Linked DNA regions of Homo sapiens: region 1 is linked to region 2. The links come from fine-mapping of genetic effects on gene expression. A gene starts in region 2. The other region holds a variant in brackets. All regions are shown on one strand. Distances are between the middles of the regions.

What was found. PIP is the estimated chance that this variant, and not a neighbour inherited with it, causes the effect.
Region 1: its variant is the best candidate, but not a certain one, in a credible set for the expression of LASP1 in monocytes (TOPMed, PIP 0.74).

The regions. Positions count from the first base shown.
Region 1 is chr17:38,899,148-38,903,524 of GRCh38, reverse strand. All of the region lies in intron 4 of LASP1 (LIM and SH3 protein 1), which reads right to left. Among named protein-coding and RNA genes, the nearest start is that of MIR6779, 14 kb to the left of the region's middle. RefSeq lists enhancers at 1,536-2,161, 3,792-4,311, 4,332-4,377, 4,312-4,377. The variant C/T (reference allele first, on the strand shown) is at 2,261.
Region 2 is chr17:38,868,314-38,872,690 of GRCh38, reverse strand. LASP1 (LIM and SH3 protein 1) reads right to left here and starts at 2,633. Exons shown (of 7, transcript NM_006148.4): 1 at 2,433-2,633. The coding sequence starts at 2,501. It overlaps TRC-GCA4-1 (tRNA-Cys (anticodon GCA) 4-1), which reads left to right and starts at 3,328; the gene lies at 3,328-3,399. RefSeq lists enhancers at 770-1,371, 2,384-2,533, 4,024-4,203, 3,779-4,377 and silencers at 1,974-2,073, 2,594-2,903, 4,324-4,377.

The DNA of each region.
Region 1 (4,377 bases), 31 kb before region 2:
AGCTGGGCATGGTGCTATATGCCTGTAGTACCAGCTACTCAGGAGGTTGACGGGAGAGGACCACTTGTGCCCAAGAGTTCGAGGCTGCAGTGACCTATGATCGTGCCACTGTACTCCAGCCTGGGCAATCTTGTCTCAAAAATAATAATGATGATAATAAGAGTGATATCATTTATCCCATGCCAAGCACTTGGCATGTTCCTTGCAACCACCTGTCAAAGTAGGGCCTACTGTCCCATTTTTACAAATGAGGAAACTGAGGCTCAAAGAGCCCTGCCTGGCCCCAGAATGACAGAAGCTAGGATCTGGGCCCTTACCATCTCTTCCTACCTCACTGTCTCACCACTTAGCAAGACTGAAGACAGACTGCACTTATCCAAAGCAGACACCCCAGAGGAGATCAGACACTTGTTTTTAAAATGCTCTGGCTGGTAAAAAGCCCTAGTCTGCAGCATATCCCTCCAAGGAAGCATATCCTCATTCTTTTGTAAGATGGCCTGACCTTTAGAAATAACTGGAGTCAGCTGGGCACAGTGGCTCACACCTGTAATCCCAGCACCTTGGGAGGCCAAGGCAGGTGGATCACCTGAGGTCAGGAGTTCGAGACCAGCCGAGCCAATATGGCAAAACCCTGTGTCTACTAAAAATACAAAAATTAGCCAGGCGTGGTGGCATGTGCCTATAGTCCTAGCTACTCAGAAGGCTGAGGCAGAAGAATCGCTTCAACCCGGGAGGCAGAGGTTGCAGTGAGCCAAGATCACGCCACTGCACTCCAGCCTGGGCGACAGAGCGAGACTCTATCTCAAAAATAAAATAAAACTAAAATTAAAAATAAATAAATAAAGTAACTGGAGTCATTTGGTGCTAATCTGGGAAGCAAAGCAACAAGCTACATACAGGAACAGGAATGCTATTTTGGATACAAAACAAAAGGTGTGGCTCTAAACACCCTATTTTCCAAAACACTTCAGGAGGTTGGGACAACTTAGCAATGGTTTTATGTGTGGTTTAAAGCTCCCAGGCGCAGTGGCTCATGCCTGTAGTAGTCCCAGAACTTTGGGAGGCCGAGGTGGGCGGATCACTTAAGTCCAGGAGTTTAAGACAACATAGTGAGACCCTGTCTCTGATTAAAAAAAAAAAAAAAAAAAAAAAGCTCCCCTGGGAGGCCAGGTGAGGTGGCTCACCCCTATAATCCCAGCACTTTAGGAGGCTGAGGCGGGAGGATAACTTGAATCCAGGAGTTTGAGACCAGCCTGGGCAACATAGCAAGATAGTGTCTCTGCAAAAAAAAGAAAAATTAGCTGGGCATGGTGGTGCACACCTGTGGTCCCAGCTACTCGGAGTCTGAGGTGGGAGAATGGCTTGATCCCAGAAGATTCAGGCTGCACTGAGCCGTGAACACACCACCGCACTCCAGCCCGGATGACGGAGCGAAACCCTGTCTCAAAAATAAAAATAGGCTGGGCTCGGTGTCTCACGCCTGTAATCCCAGCACTTTGGGAGGCCGAGGCGGGTGGATCACAAGGTCAGGAGATCAAGATCATCCTGGCTAACACGGCGAAACCCCATCTCTACTAAAAATACAAAAACTATTAGCCGGGCGTGGTGGCGGGCGCCTGTAGTCCCAGCTACTCACGAGGCTGAGGCAGCAGAATGGCGTGAACCCGGGAGGCGGAGGTTGCAGTGAGCCGAGATTGCGCCACTGCACTCCAGCCTGGGTGATAAACCAAGGCTCCGTCTCAAAAAAATAAAAATAAAAATAAAGCTCCCCTGGGGTTCTGAGGTACAGCCTGATCTGGCACCCTCTGACTTAGGGGTTGGTGAAGCTTTTTCAGACTTTTAGGTGGTGGCTCTCAAACTTCAGAGAGCACCACAGAAACCCAGGGAATGTGTCTAACATGCTGATTCCTGGGCCCCACTCCCAGAGACGCTGATTCTGGCAGCCAGGGGAGAAGGCCTGTGAGTCTGCATTTTCAGTCAACCCTACAGGTGACTGTGCTACAGCTGTCTGGAGGCCCATATCCGACAGACTGTAATTGCTTTCATTAAAACCAAGAGTCTCCAGGCTTTGCATTCACACCCTACAGGTCTCTGCTAAAGCTGCAAAAGCAGCTAGCAGGTCGGGGTCGATCCCTTCCCCCAGCTCCTGCAGAGGACCATTAGCTCACTGCAGCACCGCGAGAAGGGTAAAAGATGGTTATCTCCTGAGATGCGGATGGCTTGGCCAGGGTGGTGAGTTTTGTCACTAGGATATTAACAC[C/T]TCTAACTGGGGGAGGGAAGAAGAGGAGGTGGCTTAGGCTGAGTGTGGAGTGTTCTGGAAGCCTTCCAGAAAGGGAAGCAGGGATGACTGGGCTTGTCTCCCCTCCTCCAAAACCCACAGGGTGAAGCAATGAGTGAACAGCCAGGGAGCTGGGGTTGCACATTGGGAGCAAGTGTCACTGATAAAAGACTAGAGCCTCTACATGAAAAGCCGCAGAGGCTGAAGAGCCGACATTCCAGTTCTGTGAACCATTCCGGGTTTTCCCCATAATCTAAGACCATCTTCCCCCTCCCCCACTTTCCAAGCCGAGAGCTCTGAAACACAGACCTAAGGGTCTTACCCTTTGCAGGGTCTGAGCCAAAGGGAAGCTCCAGGGCGTGAGGCCAGGCCCTAGCATATAAAGAGTCAACTGTGACAGGCCTCTGGAAGTTGGAGGGGAAGGAGGATTAGAGTGCCCGCCCTAGGCATCCCCTGCTAGCCAAAGGGAAGCATGCCATTTCCTCAGGCCACCAACTTCAAACTGCAGGTCAACAGTCCAGTTGCAAAACCCATTCACAGTAAGTCTGCAACCAGCATCTTTTTGGTTTTTTTTTGAGATGGAGTCTTGCTCTGTCGCCAGGCTGGAGTGCAGTGGCCCGATCTCGACTCACTGCAACCTCTGCCTCCCGAGTTCAAGCGGTTCTTCTGTCTCAGCCTCCCAAGTAGCTGGGATTACAGGCACACGCCACCACGCCCAGCTAATTTTTGTATTTTTAGTAGAGATGGGGTTTCACCATGTTGGCCAGGATGGTCTCGATCTCTTGACCTCATGATCCGCCCACCTCAGCCTCTCAAAGTGCTGGGATTACAGGCATGAGCCACCGCGCCTGGTCCTTTTTTTTTTTGGAAACAGGGTCTCACTCGGTTTCCCAGGCTGGAATGCAGTGGTGCAATTACGGCTCACTATAACCTCAAACCTCTGGGCTCAGGTGATCCTCCCACTTCAGCCTCCTGAATAGCTAGGACCACAGGCGTGTGCTATCATGCCTGGCTAGTTTTTGTATTTTTTTTTTTTTTTTTTTTTTTTTGTAGAAACAGTTTTGCTATGTTGCCCAGGCTAGTCTCAAACTCCTGGGCTCAAGCAATCCTCCCACCTCAGTCTCCCAAAGTGTTGGGAATACAGTCCTCAAAGGGGCTGTATTATGTGAGGGTGTATAGGGGCCTGCAACCAGCATCTTTAGAAAAGATCTGAATGTGGCCGGGTGCGGTGGCTCACACCTGTAATCTTAGCACTTTGGGAGGCCAAGGCGGGCACATCACCTGAGGTCAGGTGTTCAAGACCAGCCTGGCCAACATGGTGAAACCCTGTCTCTACCAAAAATACAAAAATTGGCCGGGGGTGGTGGTGTGCACCTGTAATCCCAGCTACTCCACTTGGGAGGCTAAGGCAGGAGAATCACTTGAACCCTGGAGGCGGAGCACCACTGCACTCCAGCCTGAGCAACAGAGTGAGACTCTGTCTCAAAAAAAAAAAAAAAGATCTGAACGCCCTCTAAGTAGGAAGTACTCATTCATGAAAGCTTCCATTCTGTTTTCCCTCTACATAAATGTATGCCTGTCAGATGGGTCAAGACGTACAATGTATATTTTACTGTAGGCTGAAGTCAGAGTTTGAAAGCCACCATTTTGGGCATGGCTGGTTCTGCTGTCTGTGGGCTGCCTGTGCTTCTGAAATCCACCTGACCCACCACTGCAGCCCACTCTATGCACGGCCCAGCCAAGCTCTTAAAGGAGCGCCCTGCTGAGGTGGCCAGGTGGAGGGTAGGAAGGGATGTGGAGCCCAGGGAGTGGGTGCTGAGACCACCGGAAAGCCAGGCTCCCCCGGCAATCTCTATCCCCAGTTCCTCAGCCCAGAGCAACAATGGGCAGCTCACTGATCCCTTCCTGTTCCAGACACGAAGACAGCTGCCTGCCTAAACCCTCCCTGGCAGGACCTCCTAGGCCAGGCTGGCTGGGCAGCCCCTGCAGTTCTGTGTGCGCATCCCCCATGGTTGCTGCTCACCGCAGTGCCCTGCCCCCGCATGCCTAAAGCCACACAGGCTGCTTGCCTGTGGCTCTGCCAAGCAGGAAACTGAGGC
Region 2 (4,377 bases):
GGAGGCCTTGGGAAGTTGGTTAGCAACTATGGGACTGAAGCTGCCTATGGGACTGAAGGTTTCCCCTCCTCCCTGGTCACAGCCCAGCATCCTCCAGGCACTGGCTCCCCATTCCTGGTCCTATCCTTACTGCCTGGAGCAGGTGGAGAGGAATAGGTCTGATACCTGGATATTTCAGGTCTCCTGCTCAGTACAGGGGGCGAGGTCTCTCCAGGGCCACTTCCTATAGGGAGAGTTCTAAAAAGAGGAAGGAATCACCAACTCCCACTTCCCTGGGCAACCCCCACTTGAACGTCCTCTTCCAGCTAGGGTAAGAGAACTGGGGAGGGCACCCTGCCCATCCCTGCTCCCCTCCCCTCGGGTACACGGCACTGAAGGTCTTTCCAAGGGGAGTGGTGTGGAGCTGAACAGAGCATCCCAGAGAGGTAGGGAGGGCATAGTCTATACAGCACCCTCTTTAGCACTCAGGGACTTTAGTGCACTGCCCCACCTTTAAGGAAATGACATCATCATACCCATCTGACAGATGGTGAATACTGAGGCCTAGAGACATTCATAAAACTGGTGGGAGCAGACCTGGAACAAGGACCCAGTTTCCCAACTCCTGGAGTGGCAATCCTGCCTTCATGTTTTGCTTTTTCCTTATACGGGTCAAGTGCCCACTGCCTCTTCCCAATTCATGACTGTGGAGAAGAAGGGGACCACAGGGAACTCAAGATGCAGAGGCCAAAATCTCTGCCACGAGGGGCGGGCGAAACCCCAGTGTGCAAGGACAGGTACATTCTCAAGGGGAGACTTCATTATCTGATAGCTCTAAGCTCAAGTCCTGCCCAACAGCGGCTGGCATGGTCATGGGGAGATCAACAACTTTCCTCGTGCCCACAATATACCCCCTCCTCTCCTCCTGCCCAGTCAAGCCCAGGACCAGGAGGAACAGTGACACAGCAGCGGCCCCATATGCCCACACTCCCCAAGAGCAAGTTCAAATATCTTTCAGAACCTCCAACCCCACCTCCTCACGCTGACTCAGAGGCCAAAGGTCACTGAGGAAGCTCACACACCAAGGGGGAGGGGAGAGATAAGGTGTCCAATAAACTATCCTCTCCTGAACAAAACCTGGCTCCAGGTCAGTAATGAACTTGGCCCCAGGGCTCTATACCCCTCTTTCATCTAGTGTTCCCACCCTTGCACCTCTCTTCCATCCAGTCCTCCCAGCCCTCCCAGTTCAGATGGAAAGGACAGAATACTTGGACTTGGAGCCAGCTTTGGGTGGTGGATGAAAGACGCGGTGAGGAAGGGCACAAAATCACAGAGGCCTCCCCTCCAGACTGGGGAGGGGATGCAGAGGGGCAGGTTTTACCTTAGGATCTTACGGAGCTTACAAGAGAACAGGATCCTACCCTAAACTGTACGGGAAACACCCAGTTCTACTCTCCAACCCCCCTCCAAAAGTCTAATGGCAACCAGATGAACAAGTCCAGCATTGGGGAGACAGGGCCCCCAGGGGACACTGAATCTCCACAAGGCCACCCTCCCCTCCCCCCAATACCTCCCCCTTTCCTCGGCTTCCCCAGAACTCAGCCAACCCCACCCTCCATTGGAGAAACCTGCTTTGAAAAGTTAGCTCTTTGTTCTTCCACACGGTCTCCTGGCTCTGAGCACAATTTCAGGAGATCTCAGCTAAGCACCCTCCACCCACCCTACTCTGCCACCCAACCCCACCCGGCTCAGGCTGGACGGCCCAGCACCGGGAGTTGGCTTTTAATTGGAGGTGGGGGTTGGGAAGCTGTGGAGGAGGTCTGCGAGTCCTTTAACGACTGAATCCAAGGGGGTGCAGGTCGTTCAAAAACGGGGCTCTTGCGGCAGAGCCCGGGTCCTTACCCAAAACCCCCCGCATCAGATGCCACACACTCGCAGGCTGATAGCCCCCGCCCCGCCAGGCCAGGAAGCCAGGCCACCCCCGCCGGAGCGGACGGTTTTGCAGGGCCCCCCAGCCTCTGCCCCGCCCCCCCGCCCCCTCCACCAGCGCCCCGCGCTTCCGCCTACTTGGCGCTCGGCGCAGAGCGGAGAGGGAGCGGCCGTCTCTTCTCACTCTCCAGGCCGTAGGGGGCGGGACTGCACCCCTAACCTTCCCCCAACACACCCCGGCGCCTGACTTCCCTGCTCCTCTCCCGTCCTCCCAACCCCGGGACACAGAGCCCACCCCTCTCCAGCAGCGGCTGCCCGCTACGCGTGGACTTCCCGCCTCGCCCCAGATCTCCTGGTTTTCAGACTGGGATGTGTCCCCACACCCCATGACACCGCCCGCTCGCCCTCCCTCCATTCTCCTGGGATCGCGGGGATAAGGCGGCAAAGACCCGGCCCTTCTCTCCTCCCTGGATTCGGAGCACTGCGGGGGATTGCAAAGACGCGTCTCCCGGTCCCGGGCTCACCTTATCCAGACAGTTCACCTTCTCCGTGGGATACACGATCTTGCCGCACCGGGCGCAGTTGGGGTTCATGGTTCCGAGAAAAGCTGGGGCGGGGACGCCTGAGCTCACGCGCGTCCTGTTCCCCGAGGCGAGCTGGCGGGAGGCGGCCGCGGCTGCAACTACACAGGCAGCAGCGACGGCGGCTGGAGCTGGGGAACTGGCCTCCGCCTCCGCCCTCCTTCCCCTAATAAACACAGCGGGGAGGAGGGGCTGCACTGGGGCGGGCACGCGCCTCGGGCGCGGGCAAGGGCACGCGCAGCGAGGCGCGCTCTCCGGGCGACGTGGGGCTGCGCGGGGGCGGGTTCCTGGGGGGACGGCGGGGCCCGCGGTGCTGGCGCCTCAGCGCTCTCAGGCTGACTGCGCCCGGTGCCCAGGGCCCTTCCCCAGCCGGAGGCGGCGCAGAGGCGAGCAGGCTGCACATCTGGGGCGCCCGGGCTGCGGGAGGCGGGCTAACCCCTCAAGCCCGTCGAGGGTGGGGTTGGATCCTCCTGAACGCTGGAACTGATTCACCGCATTCGGGGACTTTCTACCCGGCATGAATCTGCGGACCGAACGGGGACCCCCTACCCTGCCCCTCTTAGCTCTCTTCCGGCCCACACCCTTTCCCACATTTGTGGGGCGGAACCCGTCCCTCCCTCTTGGACCCTGCGCGCTGCCGGGCCCGGGCTAGTGCTTCCCTCTCGAGCCCCTGCAGTGCACCTTCCCGGGGTTCCCCGGATGCGGGCACCGTCTGCGTTCAGCTTGACCCCTTTTTCTCCAGCATTCCTTTCTCCTTCTGTTACACCACTACTCACAGTGTAGCAGCTGCAACAATGCTTAGCACCCAAGGAGCCGCCTCCAGGCGCTGTAGAGGCGCGGGGGTATAGCTCAGTGGTAGAGCATTTGACTGCAGATCAAGAGGTCCCTGGTTCAAATCCGGGTGCCCCCTCAATGGCTTGGTTTTTCCTTCCCCTTGTTAACCATCTGTTTTTCATTCTTGACTCACATTTTAACATTGGGTCCTGACTAAAAAAAAAAAAAAAAAGAAAAGAAAAAGTATCTTCCTCATTTTTCAACCTTAGCAGAAATCTTTCGGTTTTACTTTGTGCTCAGCGGGAGGAGGGGGTGGGTATAAAAGCTGCGCGACCGCATTACTCGCGCCAGAGGTGTAGGGATTTCTGCGGCCACGGGCGCCAGCCTCAGATGGGTCAGACAGTTCGAGGTGCCGGGTTTGAGGGACAGGATGTTTCCAATGGGGGTAGGGAGACAGGGGAACGCCTCAACTTGGCGTTCCTTTTGGGGGTGGAGGGTGGGTCAGGCGAGGGAAACCCATAGACACAGCCCTTCTCCAACTTCAACTTTCTGTATTAATGGTGACATGGACGTGCTGTGTTCATCCTTGACTATTAATGTACAAAAGTAAAGTTATAACCCAGTGCAAACTGAGATAAACGAACACAGTGTTTCTCAAATTTGAACGTGCATCAGAATTACCTGCAGGGCTTGTTAAAACACTGCTAGTTTCTGATTCTGTAAGGGGGCCCCGAGAATTTGCATTTCTACCAAGTTTCCAGGTGCCTCTGGTGCTGCTGGTGTGGGGACCACATTTTAAGAACCACTGAAGTAAGAATAAAAGGCCATGGAGTTTCATAACCTAAAGATGGGGACAAGTATCTGCTGGCTGCGTGCCTGACAGGGTCACTGTTGGGCCGGAGGAAAATGGTAAGTGTGACGGGAGACAAGGGCGTCCCCCTCGACTAGGTTTTGCCCAAAAAAAGGAAAAATAAAGGAGAAAGGAAGAGGCGTGCTGCCTGGGTCAAAGGGCAGCTGCGATATTTTAAACCCGGAATGTGGTTGTGTCATTCCTCGGACCCCGGGGAAACGCGCATTTTTTTCTCCTGGCTCCTATTACTGTGAGCTGTATCTC